4 separate regions of the Homo sapiens genome follow, and all the other regions are linked to region 1. The links come from fine-mapping of genetic effects on gene expression. A gene starts in region 1. Each other region holds a variant in brackets. All regions are shown on one strand. Distances are between the middles of the regions.

What was found. PIP is the estimated chance that this variant, and not a neighbour inherited with it, causes the effect.
Region 2: its variant is fine-mapped to the expression of MRPL41 in whole blood (TOPMed, PIP 0.97).
Region 3: its variant is fine-mapped to the expression of MRPL41 in subcutaneous fat (FUSION, PIP 0.95).
Region 4: its variant is fine-mapped to the expression of MRPL41 in tibial nerve (GTEx, PIP 0.95).

Annotation. Positions count from the first base shown.
Region 1 is chr9:137,550,066-137,554,183 of GRCh38, reverse strand. MRPL41 (mitochondrial ribosomal protein L41) reads right to left here and starts at 2,305. Exons shown (of 2, transcript NM_032477.3): 1 at 2,206-2,305; 2 at 1,629-2,110. The coding sequence starts at 2,102. The coding sequence ends at 1,689. PNPLA7 (patatin like domain 7, lysophospholipase) reads left to right here and starts at 3,782. Exons shown (of 35, transcript NM_001098537.3): 1 at 3,782-4,016. The coding sequence starts at 3,987. LOC124902317 (a long non-coding RNA gene) reads left to right here and starts at 504. Exons shown (of 2, transcript XR_007061883.1): 1 at 504-597; 2 at 1,483-1,657. RefSeq lists a silencer at 2,034-2,983.
Region 2 is chr9:137,529,370-137,533,540 of GRCh38, reverse strand. All of the region lies in intron 8 of PNPLA7 (patatin like domain 7, lysophospholipase), which reads left to right. Among named protein-coding and RNA genes, the nearest start is that of PNPLA7, 19 kb to the left of the region's middle. The variant T/C (reference allele first, on the strand shown) is at 2,224.
Region 3 is chr9:137,700,316-137,704,486 of GRCh38, reverse strand. All of the region lies in intron 1 of EHMT1 (euchromatic histone lysine methyltransferase 1), which reads right to left. Among named protein-coding and RNA genes, the nearest start is that of EHMT1, 83 kb to the right of the region's middle. The variant G/A (reference allele first, on the strand shown) is at 1,760.
Region 4 is chr9:137,632,588-137,636,758 of GRCh38, reverse strand. The region is part of intron 1 of EHMT1 (euchromatic histone lysine methyltransferase 1); the gene reads right to left. Among named protein-coding and RNA genes, the nearest start is that of EHMT1, 16 kb to the right of the region's middle. RefSeq lists an enhancer at 3,648-3,942. The variant A/C (reference allele first, on the strand shown) is at 1,716.

The DNA.
Region 1 (4,118 bases):
TGCTCTTGCTGCCCAGGCTGGGGTGCAATGGCACAATCTTGACTCACTGCAACCTCCGCCTCCCAAGTTCAAGCGATTCTCCTGCCTCACCCTCCCAATAGCTGGCATCCACCAGCATGCCCGGCTAATTTTGTATATTTAGTAGAGACAAGGTTTCTCCATGTTGGTCAGGCTGCTCTCAAACTCTGGACCTCAGGTGATCCGTCCACCTTGGCCGCCCAAAGTGCCGGGATTACAGGCGTTGAGCTGTGCCTTTTTTTTTTTTTGAGACAGAGTCATGCTCGTCACCCAGGCTGGAGTGCAGTGGCTCAATCTCGGTGGCTCCATCTCGACTCACTGCCCTCCACCTCCCAGGTTCAAGTGATTCTCCTGCCTCAGCCTCCGGAGTAGCTGGGATTACAGGTGTGTGCCACCATGCCTGGCTAATTTTTGTATTTTTAGTACAAATGGGGTTTCACCATGTTGGCCAGGCTCCTGACCTCAGATGACCCGCCTGTCTCGGCTTCCCAAAGTGCTGGGATTACAGGCATGAGCCAGGGCGCCCAGCCCCAAGCATTTTGGATAACGACGCTCAACCTGTATTGGATCCCTATGCAGGTAAGTAAAAGGGAGTGTGTGTTCCAAGTTGCCTTGGGGGTCATCAGCTTGAAATATGTGAAGTCTGTAGGGAACACTCATCACTGCAGCACCCACACGGGTTAGCTCCCAAATACTGGACAGATGGTGACTTTAGGTGTGTGAACAAACTGGGTGTGTTACATCCAACTCCTGCTGTGAGGGCTTTTGTCTCTCTGGGAGGAACTGTGGTTGAGGTACAGGCCACTATTTGTCAAATCCTCAGCATTTACTAATGATACATAGGTGACTACAAGCAAAAAAACATGCAGTTTTATCCCTTTTTTGAGACGGAGTCTCACTCTGTTACCCAGGCTGGAGTGCAGTGGTGCGATCTCGACTCACTGCAAGCTCTGCCTCCTGGGTTTAAGCGATTCTCTTGCCTTTGGAGTAGCTGGGACTACAGTCGCACGCCACCACGCCTGGCTAATTTTTGTATTTTTAGTAGAGATGGGGTTTCATCATGCTGGCCAGGCTGGTCTTGAACTCCTAATCTTGTGATCCTCCCGCCTCAGCCTCCCAATGTGCTGGGATTACAGGCGTGAGCCACCGCACCTGGCCTTATCCCTTTCTTCTTTTCTGATGATACAACACAACATGTCACTATATGTCAGATTGCAACAGGAAATTTTCCTAGGCTGGGCGCAGTGGCTCACACCTGTAATCCCAGCATTTTGGGAGGCTGAGGCGGGCGGATCATTTCAGCCCATGAGTTCTCAGCCTGGGCAGCATAGTGAGACCCCCATCTCTGTATCTTTGTTCCCTGGGTGAATAATTTGGGGGATGAACTGACCAGTGCTGTCATCCGGCACAATCTGCCTTGTAAATTCTTTCTCCTGCAAGCTGAGTGATGTTTGCCCTTGGCAGGTTCCCAGAACCTTCGGACTCGGAAGATGACCTCCAAAGAGGTTCACAGCGCCGAGTCTGCATGAGAACTCGGCTTAGGTGCCTGCACTGAAATCTGTCATGCTGCACACTTTGCCATGACCTGAGGCCAAAAAACAAACACCGTATAGCTGGCAAAGGCGTTTAATAGAAATGAGATGAGGGCAGGCCGCCCCTCCCCCGCCCAGCTAGCGCAGGAAGTTCCTGGGGTAGAGCTGGAAGAGCTTTCCCTCCTGTGTGGGCTCGAAGCCGTACTTTTCCAGGTTGTCAGGGTCGAAGGTACCGTCCTTGAAGTCCTTTTCGATGGCAGGCGCCACGGCTTCGCTGAAGAGCTGCGCGGCCGTCAGGGGCGTCTCCTCGCTCTCAGGGGCGAGGTAGCTCACGTAGGGCTTGAGCTTGAAGCCGGTCAGATCCGGGACGACGAACTCCGGGACCATCTCCTTGATCTGCACGAACCTCCAGCCCGAGGTGAGGAAGCCGATGCCCTTGGCGCCCCGGCCCTTGCGGCCCCTGAAGCTGCGCGGGCCCCGCTTGCTCGTCCACTTGCTCATTCGGTCCGCACCCCGGACCAGGCAGCGCGCCGCTGCGGCCAGGACGCCCATGCCGCGCCCTGCGGGAGGAGAGAGCGGGTAGTCGCGGCCCCGGGAACCCGGCCAGCCCCGCCCCTGGCCGCGCGCGGCGCCCGCCCCAATCCGACAGACTCACCTGGACCGGAGACCCCACACGAGCTCCAAGCGGCCCCGGCTCCGGCGCCAACCCGGCCTCGACCTTGCTCCGCTTCCGACCGCTGCGTCGCAGCAAGAGCGGCTCCGATTGGCCGCGGCCGCCGCGTCCAATAGCGGCCCCAATCTGGTAGGGGGTGTGGCCGCGGGGACTCGGCCAATGCGAGGAGCGCGCGGGGCGGGGCGGGGCTCGCGGGGCTGGCGGTGCGGGGCCGGCGGTGCGGGGCTCGCGGGGCGGGGCTCGCGGGGCGGGGCTCGCGGGGCGGGGCTCGCGGGGCGGGGCTCGCGGGGCGGGGCTCGCGGGGCGGGGCTGGCGGATGAGTGATCGCTCTCAGCGCGGTGGTCCCTGGCGTCTCCACTGCCCGCCACTGCCTGTGTTCGTCCGCCAGGTGGCCGGCGGTTTCCCGGGAGCCCAGTCCCCCTGAGGCCGTGAGGTGGCGTCGGGAGGTCGGGGAGGACGCGGGCCCTGGACTCGAGACGGCCGCCGCGTTGACGCCGCGACCCTGCCTTTCTTACCCCTCCGCCGGGCGCGGCTCCTCTGGGCGGAGCCGGCAACCGCGCGGGGAAAGCCCGGGACCTGCAGCCGGGAGGGCCCGGGCTGTCTGTGCTCCCCCGCAGGCCGGGCAGTGGTGTGGGGGGACTCGAGCCCTCGCGGTGCCCAAATTAATCAATAATCTTGGACCCAGCACGTCCGGCTTGCGCACTGAGCCCTCCTGCCCGGTCACCCTCGCAGGCGACCTCTCACCCCACGCGGAAGTCGCCCCCCAGCCGCACCCTCACAATCCGGATCCACCCCCTCCCCAGCTGCACCCCGTCCCCAGCGGCACCCCCACAGCCCAGATCCATCCCCTCTCCAGCTGCACGCCCTTCCCCAGCGGTACCCCCACACCCCAGATCCATCCCCTCCCCAGCTGCACCCCCTCCCCAGCGGCACCCCCACGCCCCAGATCCACCCCCTCCCCAGCTGCACCCCCTCCCCAGCGGCACCCCCACGCCCCAGATCCACCCCCTCCCCAGCTGCACCCCCTCCCCAGCGGCACCCCCACACCCCAGATCCACCCCCTCCCCAGCTGCACCCCCTCCCTAGCGGTACCCCCACTCGCCGGATCCACGCGCTCCCCAGCTGCACCCTCTCCCCAGCAGTACCCCCACACCCCAGATCCACCCCCTCCCCAGCTGCACCCACTCCCCAGCGGTACCCCTACACGCCGGATCCACCCCCTCCCCAGCTGCACCCACTCCCCAGCGGCACCCCCACACCCCAGATCCACCCCCTCCCCAGCTGCACCCACTCCCCAGCGGTACCCCTACACGCCGGATCCACCCCCTCCCCAGCTGCACCCTCCTCCCCAGCTGCATCCCCACACCCCGGATCCACGCCCCGCCAGCGTCACCTCCCCTCCAGCCGTGCTTCTCCAGAAGGCAGCGCTGCCCCCATCCCCGCCGCGCTGGGCCTGGCTCCTCTTGACCTGCTTGGATACGCCCCATCTGGCTGCTGTTCTGGGTTCCGGGACAGCCACGTGAGGGCTGTTTACAGAGGGAAGGAGGTGGCTCCTAGCAGATGACAGACACTTCTCAAAAGACAGCTTTTCTTCCTGGAGAACAGACTTTTTCAGCAGGATTTTCCTTTCAGTGAAACATAATTTGACTTGAAAGGAACCCAGGGAAAAGTGTCCAGGTGTGAGCATGAGCGGGTAGAGGTGTGCCCTTGTTTGCTTCAGGCTGTCTGCTTTTCGCCCCTGACTGTTTTTTCTGTTTCTGGCCATGGAGGAAGAGAAAGATGACAGCCCACAGGTATGTAACTCGGGGGACCAGATGCCTGGATTTCCCAGTTGGGGGGCATTTCTGGACCCAGAGAAGGGTCCTCTTGGCGTCTGCTCTGCCGCGCTCTTTGGC
Region 2 (4,171 bases), 21 kb after region 1:
GGGTGCTCCCGTCTGGAGTGGACACTTGTGGAGGATTCTGGGAGTCCTCCCGCCTGGAGTGTACACTGTTGTGGAGAATTCTGGGAGTCCTCCCGCCTGGAGTGGACACTGTTGGGGAGGAGTCTGGGGGTGCTCCCGTCTGGAGTGGACATTCACTGAGGAGTCTGGGAGTGCTCCCATCTGGAGTGGACACTTGGGGAGGAGTCTGGGGGTGCTCCTGTCTGGAGTGGACACTGTTGTTGAGGATTCTGGGAGTCCTCCCGCCTGGAGTGGACACTGTTGGGGAGGAGTCTGGGAGTCCTCCCGCCTGGAGTGGACACTGTTGGGGAGGACTCTGGGAGTGCCCCCGTCTAGAGTGTACACTGTTGTGGAGAATTCTGGGAGTCCTCCCGCCTGGAGTGGACACTGTTGGGGAGGAGTCTAGGGGTGCTCCCGTCTGGAGTGGACACTCACTGAGGAGTCTGAGAGTGCTCCCATCTGGAGTGGACACTCACTGAGGAGTCTGAGAGTGCTCCCATCTGGAGTGGACACTTGGGGAGGAGTCTGGGGGTGCTCCCGTCTGGAGTGGACACTGTTGTTGAGGATTCTGGGAGTGTTCCCGTCTGGAGTGGACACTCACTGAGGAGTCTGGGAGTGCTCCCGTCTGGAGTGGACACTGTTCTTGGATTCGTAGCCACACCTGATGTCCTTGGGCTCTTACCTGCTTGCTTCACCTTCTCCAGAGAGTTCCTGGTAGTCCTCTGGCCACGGGGAAAAGCCATTTCCAGCCTGTTGGGGTCAGGAAAGTGACTTGGGGTTAGCCTGCCCCTCTTCCCGTCTCACCTGCATGTTAGCCTCGTTCTGGCTCTGCAGTGAGGACCAGTCCTCTCTGTCCAGGTTCTGCACCTCTAAAACCAAGTGTCAGCTTTCCTTAGAGGGCTCCACCAGCCATGACCCTGTCACTTGCTTTCATCAGCCGCTAAAATTTCAGTGACATTTTTTATCTACTCTTAGCTTTTGTCTTTATCCTTGGAGGTTTGTATCTTTTTAAGAGAGCAGAGATAAGCATGTATATTCCACAAGGGGACAAAGATAAGCATTTACCTTCAACTTACCTTTCTTTTTTGGAGACAGTCTCACTCTGTCACCCAGGCTGGAGTGCAGTGGCGTGATCTTGGCTCACTGCAACCTCCATTTCCTGGGTTCAAGTGAGTCTTGTGCTTCAGCCTCCCGAGTAGCTGGGACTACAGGTATACACCAGCATGCCCGTGTAATATTTGTATTTTTAGTAGAAACAAGGTTTCACCATGTTGGCCAGGCTGGTCTTCAACTCCTGACCTCAAGCGATCTGCCCTCCTGGGCCTCCCAAAGTGCTGGGATTATAGGTGTGAACCACCGTGCCTGGCCCAACCCACCATTTTTAATGGGAGATAGTCTTTATTATTTTAATTTTTATAAAGTTGTTACAAAATACCGCAGATACGCAAAAAAGCGTGATGTTGCTGGGAATGGCGGTTGGCACCTATAGTCCTGGCTGTTCGGGAGAGGAAAGGAGATTGCTGAGCCTCGTAGTTCTAGGCCAGCCCAGACAACATAGCAGGACCCTGTCTCTAAAACAAGTAGGCATGACACAGCAAACAGGCATCTTAACTCGAACCCAGGTTATATAGTTTTAACCCTGGTTAGCTAGAACACAGGTTAGATGCACACTGCCGGCTCTGTTCACATTACCCACGTGTGCTCTCATTTCACCTTCTCTTTTCTTCAGAGATAGCTACTTTTCTGAATTTTCTTTGGTACTTATACAATATGTAGTATAATTTTGCTTGACTCTAAATCTCATAAATGGCATCACACCAGGATTCCTCACCTTTCCTAATTTGAGCAACATTATGAACGTGAGATTCATTGGCGTGAGTGGGTGTCGTTCTAGTTCAGTCGTTGACACCACCGTTGATTTCTCCGTGGCTGAGTGACAGCTGGGTTGGGTGTGATTGCTGGCTGCTACATACAGCACTGCCGAGATCTGAAGATGTGCAAGTGTGGGGAGCCCTCGGGGACCCCTGCCTGCCAGAGGAGCTGCGTGTCCACCTGGGCTTCCCAGCATCCAGCCTCTCCCTGTGGTTTTCACAGCTTCCTGATCTGGGGTGAGGTTATGAAGGCATGGTTTTTTGAAGTAAACAAGTGGATTTGAAATAAAACACACAAAAGCCATTTTTAGCAACAGCTGCTAAGTTGTTATTC[T/C]TTTTCCCCACCCGCCCCCAAACACACGCACGTGCTTTTCTCCCTGATTCCAGAGTGGAGATGAGACTTGCCCAGCTGATGCGGTTGGTGGGGGTGTCTCTCCCTTGAGTCTGGAGCAGGCCGTGATTTCAGTCGCTGGACCCCGGCTGTTGGGGCTGGCAGATGACTCCTCTCAACCGTTCTGTGCTTGTGTTTCTTGTGGTGTGGTGTAGCTCTCTTAGGGAGGAACTTGCTCTACATAAAGGTTTTGAAAGGAACGGAACAAAATTCCAAGTGGAAGAAAAATTGCTGAGTCTCAGAGATCGATTAGCATGTGCCAAGAGCTGAGTATCTGGTGTGCTCGATGTGCGGGGCCCGCAGCAGGCCTGAGTGTCGGCCAGTTGTGCTTTGGAGCCCAGCACCAGGAGATTGGGCACCCTCTAAGTTCCTTGTTTGGGTTCTCGTTTATGTGGCCTCGTGCAGGAAGGTACATTGGAATTCTCCTGAACAGCAGCAGCCGTGAGCCTGGTCTACACAGGTGAGCAGCTGCTGTTTGATTTAGTATCTGTGGTGATGTGTTAGGCATCTTCATTCAGGCTCTCAAAGAAGAAGGAAATTAAGATTTTATTTTTAACTAAAATAAATGGGAGAGTTACAGTTCTGCTGTGGCAAGGTAGTGCCACAACAGCCTGTCCTGCTGATTACAGTGAAAAACTCTGGACAGAATGCAGAAAACAATTCTTGGAGAACTCCGAAAATAAAGCCAGTAGACTGTGGATAGTCATCGTGGAGCCGCCACCCACGAGGGTTCTGCTTCCTGCTTTTTCGTTTTCTTCTGTTACTCATGGCCTTGCCTTGATGGTAGCCCAGTTATGGAGCAAAAGCCCTGATGGGAATCCTCCAAAAGCACCAGAAGAAGGGCCCCCAAGGGCCAGAGAGAGTGTGTGGATCTCAGGGAGGAGAGAGCCAGGGAAGTAGATGCACAGATTTTGTCTGTGAACCTGTACAAGGCTCAGGACAGACCCAGAGCAGCATAACAAAGACTTTGAAACTGTATTAAGATTCATACTTCAAGGCCAGGTGCGGTGGCTCACGCCTGTAATCCCAACACTTTGGGAGGCCGAGGCGGGCAGATCACAAGGTCAAGAGATCAAGACTGTCCTGGCCAACATGGTTAAACCCTGTCTCCACTAAAAATACAAAAAAATTAGCTGGGTGTGGTGGCGCGCACCTCTAGTCTCATCTACTCGGGAGGCTGAGGCCGGAGAATCGCTTGAACCCGGGAGGCAGAAGTTGCAGTGAGCCGAGATCATGCCACTGCACCACAGCCTGGGAAACAGAGCAAGACTGTATCTCAGGAAAAAAAAAATTCAAACTTCAGGCTGGGCGCGGTGGCTCACACCTGTAATCCCAGCACTTTGGGAGGCTGAGGCGGGCGGATCACATGAGGTCAGGAGTTCCACACCAGCCTGGTCAACATGGTGAAACCCCGTCTCTACTAAAAATACAAAAATTTAGCCAAGTGTGGTGGTGTGTGCCTGTAATCCCAGCTACTCAGGGGGCTGAGGCAGGAGAGTTGCTTCAACCCAGGAGGCGGAGGTTGCAGTGAGCCGAGATCGTGCCACTACACTCCAGCCTGGGTGGTAGAGTGAAACTCCGTCTCAAAAAAAAAAAAAAAAAAACAAAGATTCAAACTTCACCTCGAATCTCAGATTGACTCCTGAGTGGTGCATGTTCAGGGCAGAGCAAAGCATCAGAACCAAGGCTTTGAAAACAGAGAAACTGGAATCCACCATCCACAGATACAGACTTGTGGTCTGAACCCAACCAGCTTAATCGCCTGCTAAAACAAAGAAGGCAACATTCTCCGGAAAATTATATCCTAAACCCAGCCATTATAAATGATCACAGTGGATACAAATGGTCTAAATACAACAACAAGACAGACTGTCAGATTGGATGGAAAGTC
Region 3 (4,171 bases), 150 kb before region 1:
TACCATTAAAAAAACCAAACACTATCTTAAATGTCCATGTTTCTTAAAATTAAAACCAATAGAAAATCCTCAATCTACAACCAGGGCAAGGCCACAAGCCTCCGGTCTTGGTCCTGCTTGTTTATGAGAACAAAGTGGCCCAGTCCTTCCCTCCAAGTCCCGAGCTCAGTGAGCTCCTTCCTCCCACACATTCCCCTACAGGCTGCAGAGCTGAGGTCACATCATAACCTCACTGTTTACAGACACATAGTGATATGGTTTGGCTCTGTGTCCCCACCAAAATCTCATGTTGAACTGTAATCCCGAATATTGGGGGAGGGGCCTGATGGGAGGTAACTGGATCATGGGGGCAGATGTCCCCCTTGCTGTTTTCGTGATATATCTCACAAGATCTGGTTGTTGGAAAGTGTGTGGCACTTCCCCCTTTGCTCTCTCTTCATCCTTATGGCCAGGTAAGATGTGCTCGCTTCCCCTTTGCCCTCCCGCCATGATTGCTAAGTTTCCTGAGGCCTCCCTAGAAGCAGAAGCCTCTACAGCCCACAGAACCATGAGCTGATCAAACCTCTTTTCTTTATAAATTACCCAGAATTAGGTATATCTTTATAGCAGTGTGAGAACAGACTAATACAGAAAATTGGTACTGGAGAAGTAGGGCATTGCTATAAAGATACCTGAAAATGTGGAAGCAGCTTTGGAAATGGGTAATGGGCCGAAGTTTGAACAGGTTAAAGGGCTAGGAAGAAGAAAGGAAGATGAACTTCCTAGAGGCTTTTTGAATGGTTTTGACCAAAATGCTGACAGTGATATGGACAATGAAGTCCAAGCTGAGGAGGTCTCAGATGGAGATGAGGAACCTATTGGGAATTGGAGTAAAAGTCACTCTTGCTATGCTTTAGCAAAGAGACAGGCGGCACTGTGTCCCTGCTCTAAGGATCTGTGGAACTTTGAACTTGAGAGAGATGATTTAGGGTATGTGGTGGAAGAAATTCCTAAGTAGCAAAGCAGTCAAGATGTGGCCTGGCTGCTTCTAACAGCATACACTCACATGCGTGCACGAAGAGAGTATCTGAAACTGGAACTTATATTTAAAAGGGAAGCAGAGCATAAAAGTTTGGAAATTTTGCAGCCTGACCATGTGGTAGGAAAAAAAGCACATTTTTCAGGGAAGGGGTTCAAGCCAGCTACAGAAATTTGCATGAGGAGCTGAATGTTAATAGCCAAGACAATGGGGAAAATGCCTCAGAGACCTTTGCAGCAGCCCCTCCCATCACAGGCCTGGAGGCCTAGGAAGGAAGAATGGTTTTGTGGGCCAGACCCAGGGCCTTGCTGCTCTGTGCAACCTCAGTACATGGTGTCCGGCATCACAGCCACTCCAGCTCCAGTGGTGGCTGAAACGGCCCCAGATACATCTCAGGACACTGACCCAAAGGGTGCAAGCTGGCAGCTACCAAGGCTTCTACATGGTGTTAACCCAGCAGGTGCACACAGGGCAAGAGTTAAGGCTTGGGAGCCTCCACCTAGATTTCACAGGATGTATGGATATCATCCATACATCTGTGGTGGCGCATGCCTGTAATCCCAGCTACTCAGGAAGCTGAGGCAGGAGAATTGCTTGAATTCAGAGGATGCTGGATGTGGAGGCCAAGTATATGGAAATGTCCAGATGTCCAGACAGAAGCTTCCTGCAGGGGCGAAGCCCCCACGGAGAGCCTCTACTAGGGCAGTGTGGATGGGAAATGTGGGACTGGAGCCCCACATA[G/A]AGTCTCCACTGGGGCACTGCCTAGTGGAGCTGTGAGAAGAGGACCACTACCCTCCAGACCCCAGAATGGTAGATCCATCTACGGCTTGTACCACACGCCTAGAAAAGCAGCAGGCACTCAACGCCAGCCCATGAAAGCAGCTGCAGGAGCTGTACCCTGAAGAGCCACAGAGGCAGAGCTGCCCAAGGCCTTGGGAGCCCACCCCTTCCACCAGTGTGGCCTGGAAGTGAGACATGGAGTCAAAGAAGATTATTGTGGAACTCAGACTGCCCTGCTGGGTTTCAGACTTACATGGAGCCTGTAGCCCCTTTGTTTTGGTCAATTTTTCCCTTTTGGAACAGAAGCATTTACCCAATGCCTGTATTACTATTGTTTCTTGGAAGTAAGCTTTTTATTTTACAGGCTGATAGGCAGAAGGGACTTACCTTGTCTCAGATAAGACTTTGGACTTTTGAGTTAATGCTGGAATGAGTTAAGACTTTGGGAAATTGCTGGAAGGCATATTTGTGTTTTGAAATGTGAGAAGGACCCAGCACTTTGGGAGGCCGAGGTGGGTGGATCATGAGGTCAGGAGTTTGAGACCAGCCTGACCAACATGGTGAAACCCTGTCTCTATTAAAAATACAAAAATTAGGCTGGGCGCAGTGGCTCACATCTGTAATCTCAGCACTTTGGGAGGCTGAGGCGAGTAGATCACCTGAGGTCAGAAGTTCGAGACGAGCCTGGCCAACATGGTGAAACCCCGTTTCTACTAAAAATACAAAAATTAAATGGACATGGTGGCGGGCACCTGTAATCCCAGCTACTTGAGAGGCTCAGGCAGGAGAATCACTTGAACCCAGGAGGCAGAGGTTGCAGTGAGCTGAGATCGCACCATTGCACTCCAGCCTGGGCGACAAAAGCAAAACTCCGTCTCAAAAAAAAAAAAAAATTTAACCAGGCATGGTGGCGCGTGCCTGTAATCCCAGCTATTCAGGAGGCTGAGGCAGGAGAATTCCTTGAACCTGGGAGGTGGAGGTTGCAGTGAGCTGAGATCACACCATTGCACTCCAGCCTGGGCAACAAGAGCAAAACTCCATCTCAAAAAAAAAAAAAAAAAAATTAGCCAGGCATGGTGGCGCCCACCTGTAATCCCAGCTACTCAAGAGGCTGAGGCAGGAGAATTGCTCAAACCCGGGAGGCAGAGGTTGCAGTGAGCCAAGATCACACCATTGCACTCCAGCCTGGGCGACAAGAGCAAAACTGCACGTCAAAATAAAATAAAATAAAATAAAAATTAGCCAGGTGTGGTGGCACATGCCTGCAATCCCAGCTACTCAGGAAGCTGAGGCAGGAGAATCACTAGAGCCTGGGGGACAGAGGTTGCAGTGAGCTGAGATCGCATCATTGCACTCCAGCCTAGGTGACAGAGTGAGACTCTGTCTCAAAAAAAAACAAGAGAAAAAAAAAAAAGAAATGTGAAAAGGACATGAGATTTAGGAGGGATCAGGGGCAAAATGATATGGTTTGCTCTGTGTCCCCACCCAAATCTCATGTTTAACTGTAATCCTCAATGTTGGGGGAGGGACCTGGTAGGAGCTGACTGGATCATGGGGGCGGACGTTCCCCTTGCTGTTCTCATGATAATGAGTGAGTTCTCATGAGACCTGGTTGTTGGAAAGTGTGCAGCACTTTCCCCTTCATGCTTTCTCTCTCCTGCCAGCCATGTGAAAATATGCCTGCTTCTCCTAGGCCTTCCGCCATGATTTTAAGTTGCTTGAGGCTTCCCCAGAAGCAGAAACCTATACAGCCTGCCCACAGAACCATGAACCGATTAAACCTCTTTTCCTTATAAATTACCCAGCCTCAGGTATGTCTTTATAGCAGTGTGAGAACGAGCCAATACACCCAGAAACCTGGCATTTTTTATAGTAAAACAAGAGCTACAATTTGTAAAGCCAGAATTGATCACAGGAACAGTTCCTTCACTGACCTATCCAGATTCTCATCAATGTCACAGCCTATAATAAAACCTCAATTAGAACAGTACCTAAGCATCAAGGGCTGAATGCTATGGTAGGGAGGGTGGGGTGGCATGGCAGGGGTGCAAAATCTACCCAATCCATGATCAAAATGGGTCACAACAGCAACAAATCAAACCTTTTGAGAAAGGAGAACAGCGGACTAATGAGGCCCACCTCAGCACACATTTGACGTGCTTGAGCTGGACTCCACCATCCTTCTAGAAAACAACATTGTCTTCTTCCGAATGCCCACTTTAATATATTGTCTAAGGCACTGATGTGGCTGGAGAAAAAAGGATTATTTCCCACTTCGTGAAGTTTTTTCCTTAAATGTTAATTGGTGGGTTCAGATAGACACAAAAACTTAAGGGGAAAAAAGTTCCCCAGATAGTGAAGTAGAACTCAGAC
Region 4 (4,171 bases), 83 kb before region 1:
AGGATTAGATAACATACCCAAATGGATTTAGGGCAGAAACGCAGGGCTGGTTGAGCATATGAAAATCTATGTAAGACACCATATCAATAAAGGAAAAAAACTACATAATCATGTCAACAGATAGAGACAAACATTTGACAAAATCCAAAACCCCTTTATAATGAAAACACTCAACAAGCTAGAAATAAAAGGGAATTCCTCAATCTAGTAAAGGGCATCTATGGAAAAACTCATAGCTAATATCATACCTAATGGTGAAAAACTAAAAGCTTTCCTCTAAAAACAGGAATGAAGATGGGAATGTCAGCTTTCACCACTTCTATTCAACATTTTACTAGCCAGGGCAATTAGGGAAGGACAAAAAAGTGTCCAGATTTAAAAGGAAGAACTACAACTCTATTCCCAAATGACATAATCCTATATATAGAAAATCCCAAGGAATCCACACCAAAAAAAATTCAGCAAAGTTGCAGGATACAAGATCCAATATATAAAAATCAATTTTATGTCTATACAATTGCAATCTAAAAATGAAATGTGGCTGGGCATGGTGGCTCACGCCTATAATCCCAGCACTCTGGGAGCTGGAGGTGGGTGGATCCTGAGGTCAGGAGTTCAAGATCAGCCTGGCCAAAATGGTGAAACCCCATCTCTACTAAAAATACAAAAATTAGCAAGGCGTGGTGGCATGCACCTGTAATCCCAACTACTCAGGAGGCTGAGGCAGGAGAACTGCTTGAACCCAGGAGGCGGAGGTTGCAGTGAACCGAGATCGTACCACTGCACTCTAGCCTGGGCGACAGAGCAAGACTCCCCATCTCAAAAAAAAAAAATTTTTTTTAATTCTATTTATAAAAGCATCAAAAAGAATAAAATACTTGTAAGAAATAACTACAAAACTTATACATTAAAATATTGTTTTTTGTTTTGTTTTGTTTTTTGAGACAGTCTCGCTCTGTCGCCCAGGCTGGAGAGCAGTGGCACCATCTCAGCTCACTGCAAGCTCCGCCTCCCAGGTTCATGCCATTCTCCTGCCTCAGCCTCCCGAGTAGCTGGAACTACAGGCGCCCGCCACCACGTCCCACTAATTTTTTGTATTTTTAGTAGAGACGGGGTTTCACCATGTTAGCCAGGATGGTCTCGATCTCCTGACCTCGTGATCCACCCACCTCGGCCTCCCAAAGTGCTGGGATTACAGGCGTGAGCCACCGCGCCCAGCTCTGAAAATGTTAAAGAAAACTGAAGGCCGAGCGCAGTGGTTCATGCCTGTAATCCCAACACTTTGGGAGGCCAAGGAGGGCGAATCACGAGGTCAGAAGTTCAAGACCAGCCTGTCCAACATGGTGAAACTCCGTCTCTACCAAAAATACATTAAAAAAAAAAAATTAGCTGGGCGTGGCGATGGGTGCCTGTAATCCTAGCTAGTCGAGAGGCTTAGGCAGGAGAATGGCTTGAATTCAGGAGGCGGAGGTTGCAGTGACCCGAGATCACGCCACTGCACTCCAGCCCAGGTGACAGTGCAAGACTCTGTCTCAAAATAAATAAATAAAATAAAATAAAATAGAAGACCTAAATAAATGGACAAGCATCCGGTGTTCCCCAATTGGAAGACTTGCTATTAAGATGGCGATATCCTAAACTGATCTACATATTCAACACAATCCCTTTCAAGATCCTGAAAGGCTTTTTTGCAGATATTGACAACAAGATCCTAA[A/C]ACTCATACGAAAATCCAAGTGACAGCCGGGCGCAGTGGCTCACACCTGTAATCCCAGCACTTTGGGAGGCCGAGGCCGGCGGATCACGAGGTCAGGAGATCGAGACCATCCTGGCTAATATGGTGAAACCCCATCTCTACTAAAAATACAAAAAAAAAAAAAAAAAAAAAAAAATTAGCTGGGCATGGTGGGGGCGCCTGTAGTCCCAGCTACTCGGGAAGCTGAGGCAGGAGAATGGCGTGAACCTGGAAGGCAGAGGTTGCAGTGAGCTGAGATCGCACCACGGCACTCCAGCCTGGGCGATAGAGAGAGACTCTGTCAAAAAAAAAAAAAAAGAAAGAAGAAAGAAAGAAAAGAAAGAAAAAGCAAGCAAGCAAGCAAGCAAGGGACCCAATCTTGAAAAAAAAGAAAAGAAAAGAAAAGAAAAGAAATGAAAGAAAATGCAAGGGACCCAATCATGAAAAAGACAAAGTTGAAGGACTCACATTTCCTCATTACAAAACTTATTACACTGCTGCAACAATGCTCGCATTAGGACAGACATATACATCAACGGAATAGAACTGAGAACCCAGAAATTAACCATCACATTTATGTTCAACTGATTTTCAAAAACGATGGCCAGGCAATTCAATGGGGAAAGCATGGTCTTTTCAACAAACGCTGCTGAGCCAACTGTACATGAAAAGAATGAAGCCTGGATCCTACCTAACATCATATACAAAAATTAAGTCAAAACGGATCAAAGACTTAAATGTAAGAGCTAAAACTATGCAAATTTTCCAAGGAAACATAAACTCCCTGGTTTGGATTGGGCAATCAGACACGACAACAAAAGCAAAGAAACCAACTGGAAAACAAGAAGGTGGATTTCATCAAAAATTAAAAACATCTGTGCTTCAAAGGAAGGCATCAAGAAAATAAAAATTAGGCCGGGCACAGTGGCTCATGCCTATAATCCCAGCACTTTGAGAGGCCGAGGCAGGTGGATCACTTGAAGTCAGGAGTTCAAGACCAGCCTGAACAACATGGTGAAACCCTGACTCTACTAAAAATACAAAAATAAGCCGGCGTGCTGGTGCGCACCTGTAATCCCAGCTTCTCAGGAGGCTGAGGCAGGGGAATCGCTTGAACCCGGGAGGCGGAGGTTGCAGTGAGACTAGATTGCACTCCAGCCTAGGCGACAAGAGCGAGACTGTCTCAAAAAAAAAAAAAAAAATTAGAAAGTGAAAAGACAGCCCACAGAATGAGAAAAAATATTTGCAAAAAAGTAGAGCAGTGTCGGGGGTCGGGGAGGGAGGATTAGGGAAGTCCTGCTAATGGGTATGAGGTTTCTTTTTGGGGTGACGGAATGATCTGGAAGTAGTGGTAATGACGGAATGATCTGGAAGTAGTGGTAATGGTTGGACCACTCCAGACATACCAAAGAACCCCACTGAGGTGCACATTTTAAAATGTGAATTTTATAGTAAATGAATTACATCTCAATAAAAATAAATCATCTGCTCCTGGACTGATACTGGAATATGGCAACAGCTATCGGTGTGAAGACATTTTCAAAGATGAAACAGAAAACTGTGTCACAGTAAGCACTTAACAGATGAACAGCTCCAGTAATTTTTATGATGGGGAACATTAACATTGAACCCCAATTAAGCAAAATGTTATCCCCCCAAAAATTCTGTTCTTCTAATCAGTAGATCTGTATTACAAAAAAAAAAAAAGTAGTCAATTATATTTTGATCTTTGTCAACAAAAATTTGTGGAGTTATCCTTGATTTTGCTTCTTGGTGCATGAGTCTGAAATACTATCCAGCCTGCTCAGAAAGAGTTTGCCACCCCTGGAATAAACCACCCCAGAGCTGACCTGAGCATGCCTTCCCTGTCCGGGTGAATGGCACGGCCACCCACCCTTCCGTTCAAGCAGAGAACCCAGCATTTGGCTCCGGCCTAGTCCCACAAGTCATCCTTGTGCCCTCCTCATCTGCCACATAACCGGTGACCACCCACTCCCTGAGGACTGCGTTTGCTGCCTCCACTGCCATCCGTCTACAATCCGTTCTTCACACAGCAGCAGGAAGACCAGGAAGGAAGCCAGAGCCTAACACGCAAACCTGATGAGGTCACTCCCTGCCTTGAAACCCTCCTACTGCCCTTATTGCAAGGACGAGAATCATTAGCATGGTCTCCACAGCTCCATCAGCCCACCTAGGTTAGCAACCTGCCCCGTGTGATGCTATACCCAGGAATATGATCAAAGGAACAGTCATTAAATGCTTGAAGAAGTGGTCTAGGCCGGGCACAGTGGCTCACGCCTGTAATCCCTAAAAAGTGGTCTAGGCTGGGCACAGTGGCTCACGCCTGTAATCCCAGCACCGTAGGAGGCCAAGGCAGGCAGATGGCTTGAGTCCAAGAGCTCGAGACCAGCCTGGGTAACATTGTGAAACCCTGTCTC